2 linked regions of the Homo sapiens genome follow. The protein of the gene in region 1 interacts with the protein of each later gene in a biochemical or structural test. Each region holds a gene or a part of one and is shown on either strand. Other genes may lie near its edges.

Region 1 (3,076 bases):
ATGTCCTGTGGAGCAGGGAGGATGAAGGATGGGGAGAGGCAGCCCTGGGTCATGCTCGAGGTGGGGGCACCGGGGGTGTCAGCAGCCCCTCCAGGGGTCTCTGGGACACTTCCCTGGCGGCAGAGACCTTCCCTGGCCGCCCAGGATCCGCACCTCCACCGGGCCTCCTCCTCCAGGCAGCCCTCCTTGACCACATTCCTAAGCCCGTGGGCGCCGTTCCCAGGTAGCCGGCAGGTGGCAGCACAGGCCGTGGGAGGCTCCGCTCCAGCCCCGCCCTATGCCGCGCGACCCTCGGGGCGCCGAGCCTCCTTGGCGGGGCCCGGGAGCAGGCAGCACACTTCACCCACCCGCACATCGATCCCCGCCCGCCCCCGGCGCCAAGCCAGCCCCTGGGTGACCCCGGCTCCCTCCGAGGCCGCGGCGTACCTGCGAGAACTGCGCGAAGGTGCGGTCGGCCAGCATGGGCACGTGCCCCAGCAGCTCGTGGCAGCAGTCCCTGCGCGTAGGAGGGAGAAGGGGGCTGAGGGGCCGCCCGTCGCACCCCCCACCCTCGGGCTGGCGGCCAGGGCGCGCACTCACGGCTCAGGGGAGTGCATGGGCGAGGACGCGTGGCGGATATACTGGGTGCACTGGAACACGCGGAAGGCCAGGCTGGCCAGGAAGTCCCGGGCGGACAGCAGGCCGGCCACAGGCCGCAGCTGGAAGCCCGTGCGCTCTGCAAGGGGCCACGCGGGTCACTGCCGAGCCGGGACGGGCTGGAGCCGCGCTGGGGTGGGGCGCTTGGCTGACCATCCCCGGCCCCCCGGCTCTGCGCCCCTCCCGTCTGGGCACACCCTTCAGGAAGCGGGAGACGTCCTCCAGCTGGGGGATATTGTCTTCCCGGTAGCCGCTGAAGCGCTCCAGCAAAGCAAAGGCCTCCAGGTGCTCCCCGCAGGCGTGCGTGGCGTAGAGGCCCTTCAGCGTGGTGTAGACCTCCTTCCTGCGGGCAGCCAGGCTCAGGGCCCTCTAATGCCCCACCCCAGTGCCCGAAACCCCCCTCCTGAACTGTGGGTGCCTCTGCCTGCCTGAGCCCCTACCAACGCAGGCCTCTTGGGGACCCCTGAAGACCCAGGCCCCCGGGAGGGGCTTTTGCTGGTGGCTTTAGGGAATCCCAGGGGATAGGGGGCCATGAGGGGCGGTCCCTCAGCACACTGGGGATGGCCCGACAGGATGGGTAGCCTCTTCCTCCCAACCCAACATTCTGAGCCCTGCAAGTCCCTCTTCTTCCCGGCCTTAGTCTCTCCTGTTGTGCCAAGGTCCCTGGAGGCGGCCCTCACACGCCAGGATTCCAGGAGGCATCCCCCGGGCTCCTCCCCAGCCCCTAGCTGCACGGAGGTCTCACCAGGTGGCAATCTCCTCGGCGGTGTACTCCACACGGGGAATCGGGTCGCCGCTGGGGAGGGGGCCAGTGGTCAGCAGGTCCCCTCGGGGAGTGAGAAGGGCAGGAGGGAGGGAGGGAGCTTCACTGGGCACAGGTCCACACCCGCCTAGTGCAGCGAGGCCTTTGGGTTGGAGGATGGACAGGAGGGTGCACCCCAGCTGACTGTGCCGTGAGCCGGCTATGTGGCCTCGGCAGGTTGCTCTAGCCCCCCTGGGCCTCAGTTTCCCCACTGGGATTTGGGGACATGGAAAGCCCTGGAGCAGAGCTGCCTGGCAGGAGGCACTGATGCTGGTGACAAGATGGGTCCTCCCCTTTGTCCTTCCCTCCCACCCCCCAGGTCCAGCGTCAGCCTGCAGGACGGAGTCTGGGTCCCGAGCGCAGGGGCCCCTCACTGCCTGTACTGGAAGGCGATCTCAGCAATCAGCTTCCTGCGCTGGCGGTACACCTGGTCCGAGAAGCCCTGAGGGCAGAGGGGATGCACGGGTCAGGAGGCTGTGCTGGGGTGGGGGCACAGGCCACGGAGGCTCCTGGAGCCGACAGACTCCTGTCCAGGGTTGGGCTAAGGGTAGGGGATGTGATCAGGGGCAGGAGGCCTGAGTGAGGGGCGCACCACTCACCGGGTGGTCCAAGTCCAGGTCAGGGTCGAACTTGGTGACCAGGTGATGACACTTGTCCAGCTCTGACACTTTTCTTGGGAACCAGGGGACTTTATGGGTGATGGAGGAAGAGATCTTGGTGAGCTCGGAGCCGTGGGGCTGTGTCACCCACCTTGAAGCAGCCTCCCCTACAAGACTTCCGGGGGGCAGAGGCAGCCGGGGCTGTGAGAGCTGCGGGGGGATCCTGGAGTGGCCCCAGGCCCGGACACGGATGTGTAGCAAAACGGGGTGCGGAGTGGAGCCCGCAGAGAGGGAACCAGGCCACCACCACGTGGTCACTGTAGGGTCCCCCTGCAGGAGCCCCTGCACCCCAGCCTCTCAAGGTCATTTGGTGGCCCTCAAGGACAGAAAACCGCCTCACCCTTGGGCCCCGCGGGGCTGCGCACGTCCTCTGACACCTGGCGCACACCACTGAGCAGGGCGGCCAGGTCCCCTCGGCGCACCTCGAGGCGCACGAAGTACTCCAGGTGGGGGCCCCCAGCTCGCGGCCTCTGGGCGGGCCGGGTCTCTAGATGGTGGATTTTGGCTTCAAACGTCTTAGGGAGCAAAAGCAGGAAGAGAGAGAGAAGGAGAAAGAGACAGAGATGGAGAGAGAGGGTGGGGTGGGCGGGGAGGAGGCACATCTGGCTGGCTGGCCAGGCCCTGCCCTTGACTTTTGTGCTAGCAGCACACAGATCCCGTTCTTCCAGGCTCAGGTCAGCTGTCGGCCACCAGGCCAGGGTTTGCCACTGGCAAGTTGGATTTTGTGTTACGTGCCTAACCAGGAGTTGTCACCGCTTGAGGCTTAACCTGGTTCTGGGCGGCTCGGTGTGTGTGTCCCAAGGCCATGCCACACAGTCCGGCTCCTCAGCCACTGGTCAGAAGGTGCCCCCAACCCTGGTGGCCTCATCCAGGTTTGTAGGATGGGCCCTGAGTCTCACTGGCCCCTGAGCGTCCAGGACACTGGCCAGAAGGGTCCGCTCCACCCCCACCTCCTGTTGCCTAGCAACAAGGGCGGTGG
Region 2 (3,110 bases), on another chromosome or scaffold:
CTCTCACAGCAAAGTCAGACCTCAGATCTAGGATTCTGCTACCATTAACTTACTGTAGAACTTCTCTTAAACTAGCCATGACCTCTGGACCCATTCCTAATCTGTAAAGGGAGGAACAACCATCCCAGGAGTGTTCTGTGATTGCCCCGTGTTTTAGGAAAAACTCTCCTCAAATCGTGTTTTCCCTCTACTCTCATGCCATCACAATCATCAACACAGAAGACTTCAGTGACCAAATGTGTGTGGGGTTTCCCCACCAAAAGCAGTGGACATCAGCCGGGTGTCCTCTAATTCAGTTCCAACACTATCTACCCAGAGACATTGTCAGACCCCACAGGTTGAGGGTTCAGTCTCCAAGACTGCCCCCCTCAACCACACCAGGCACAAGTCTAGGCCTCCAGAACTTCTGACCAACTGGCTTCAAGTTGAGTTCCCACGACCTCCTTTTTGGGTTCAATTAATTTGCTAGAGTGGATCACAGAGCTCAGAGACACACTTACTTATGTTTACCGGTTTATTATAAAGGATATCGCAAAGGATACAGATGAAGAGATGCACATAGAGCAAGGAATGAGGGAAGGGGAAGGAGTGCAGAGCTTCCGTGCCCTCCCTGGGCACGCCACACTCCAGGAAGTGCCAGGTGTTCAGCTATCCAGAAGCTCTCTGAACCCTGTCCTCTTGGGTTTTTATGGAAGGTTCATGACATCAACATTCCTTCCCCTAGGATTGAGACCCTCTCATGGGAAGGTCTTTAGGACCCACTGTGAAAAAGGTGGGCGAACATTAGTGAAAGGATACCCAGAGGTCAGAGGCCTGTCCCAAGCCCTAACATACCCAGTATTCTAACAAAGACTGGAACAAGGACTATGAGAGTTACGAGTCAGGAATGCTGGATGAAAACCAATATATATCATAACACCACACCCAGCATTGGCACTCAGCACACAGGTGTTAGAAACAAGTTACTCCTAAGCACTCTTCCTGCGTGGCCTCCGCCCACAGCCGCCCCTCACAGGGCTTTCAGCCTGCCAGTAGAAATCACTCGAGGGCCCACACATGCAAGGCCCTGGGCACACGGCACAGTCCTGACTCAAAGAGTTGGCCTCAGCTCCTGGGGGCTGCCCTGGCCTCATTCACCCTTGAACTCCCCAACTGCCACCCACCTTAGGCATTCTTTAAGCATCTGCTGCCAGGTCAAGACCACCACCTTCCGGGACCTGCAAGCCCCACCCAGCTCTGACTGGCACATGACCAGCTATGAGGGCCAGTCTGGCAGGACCGTATCCCGTGAGCTCACACCCTGCTGAGAAAACAGCACAGAAAGGGTGTATTTCTGGGTTGGGCACAGTGGCTCACACCTGTAATCCCAGCACTTTGGGAAGCTGAGGCAGGAGGACTGCTTGAAACCAGAAGGCTGAAGCCAGCACGGGCAACAAAGCAATACCCCATTTCTACAAAAATAAAAAATTAGCCAGGCGTGGTGGTGCGCGACTGTAGTCCCAGCTATTCAGGAGGCTGAGGCAGGAGGTCTCCTGGAGCCCAGGAGTTTGAGGCTGCAGTGAGCTGTGATCGCAACACTGCACTCCAGCCTGGGTGAGAGAGCAAGACCACAGCTCTAAAGAAAAAAAAAAAAAAAAAAGGAAAGGGTGTGTTTCTTTGCCTGGTACTTGCCTATTCCCAGTTCAACTCCTGAAAAAAAGAAACAATTTGATATATAAATACAGAGGTTTTTCAATAGATCATGTTTATTCCCAAGCCCCAACCAGACATGTTCTACCCCTCAAGATCCCTGAGACCCAGGCTGTGGGCTGGAAAATGAAGGCACAGTGTCAAGAGCGCCCCTGTTGGCATATGAAGACCCAGGAGTGCTGACCTTCAGGGATCTGCCTGCACTGCCCATGGGCCTGGCACAGCAGGAGGCACTCCTGTTTCTGTCCCTTCTGTCTCTGGTCTTCAGAGCAAGGTTTCTGCTGAGATGCTAAGGAAGCTGAGTCCTTTGTCAGCCCTGACTCTGACTGAGAGGCAGACAGGAGCCAAGGCCCCATTGAAGCTCCAGGATGACGATGGCCCTCAGGGGAACAGACGCAAAACCAGGCACGGGCCTGCCTTCCAGCTGGAATCTACCTGTCAGGCCCAGAACTTCTGTGCAGTTGGAGTGGGCTCCCCAGAAGGAAAAACAATACAGCTGAGTCTAGTGCTAGGGGACAGAGAACTGGGGGCTCAAGAAAGCACCCCAAAACGGGCTGCCAGGTTAAGGATCCATGGGGCTGAAGAGAAGTTTGCCCCAGAGCCCAAAGCCCAGTCTGCAGTCAGTGGGTGGAGATGAGAGGCAGCCTGGGCCCCTGCAGGGGCTGGGCCCTGAATCCTGAGGCCACCGTCACCTCAACATCACTTCCTACAGCAGAAAAAGGTCACTCTTCTTTCCAAAGGTGGTAACACAGCCTCAGAGCTTGCTCCGCGGGGCCTCTGCCAGGGGCCGCTGCAACCGCCACACCACCCTGACTGGCTCAGCAGCGCGGTCCAGCTCACGGAGGCCACCTAGGTCTTGGGTCTGGCTGTACTGCTGCAGGGCCGGCTGGAGCACCGTGATGGGAATGCTGAAGTTCAGGTGGGGGTAGGTGGCCCCCGTATTATTGTCCCGGGTGTTGCTGGTGATTATGCCTGTTGAGGAGTCAGAGAGCAAAAGAGGATGTGAGCCAGGGGGCAGAAAGGCTGGAGAAGGGAGGAGGACCATCTCCACCCTGGAGCCCCCAGGGCCTGGTAGGGCTGGATACCACCCCACGTGGTGACAGACGCTGAGCTTCTAGACATGAACACCTGCTGCCCACACCCTTTCCTGGCTTTACGTTTTCTCCTTAACACTCTCAAAATCTAACACACTAGATAGTTCACTTATTTCACTTGTTATCTTTCTCTCGACCTAGTGTCAGCTCCATAAGGGCAGGACTTTGAGGTTTTGTTCATGCAGTCTCCCCAGTACCTGAAACAGTGCCTTGTGCCAAGTAGGCGCGCAACAAAGGCTTGTTGAATGAATGAATGAATGAATGAATGAATGAATGAATGAATGAATGAATCAGACCCACAGACATATTTTGTTTGGCCTGCTCGGT

The links.
Region 2: of the proteins of TH (region 1) and TYSND1, one has a biochemical effect on the other in vitro, tested with the Homo sapiens proteins (one study listed by BioGRID).

What each region holds. Positions count from the first base shown.
Region 1 is NC_000011.10:2,166,054-2,169,129, forward strand, and holds part of TH (tyrosine 3-monooxygenase), read right to left. Parts: intron 2,613-3,076; coding exon 2,438-2,612; intron 2,127-2,437; coding exon 2,038-2,126; intron 1,881-2,037; coding exon 1,813-1,880; intron 1,433-1,812; coding exon 1,382-1,432; intron 980-1,381; coding exon 834-979; intron 716-833; coding exon 580-715; intron 497-579; coding exon 427-496; intron 6-426; coding exon 1-5. UniProt on the Homo sapiens protein: Catalyzes the conversion of L-tyrosine to L-dihydroxyphenylalanine (L-Dopa), the rate-limiting step in the biosynthesis of catecholamines, dopamine, noradrenaline, and adrenaline. Uses tetrahydrobiopterin and molecular oxygen to convert tyrosine to L-Dopa.
Region 2 is NC_000010.11:70,137,481-70,140,590, forward strand, and holds the end of TYSND1 (peroxisomal leader peptide-processing protease), read right to left. Parts: intron 2,662-3,110; coding exon 2,444-2,661; 3' UTR 501-2,443; downstream 1-500. UniProt on the Homo sapiens protein: Peroxisomal protease that mediates both the removal of the leader peptide from proteins containing a PTS2 target sequence and processes several PTS1-containing proteins.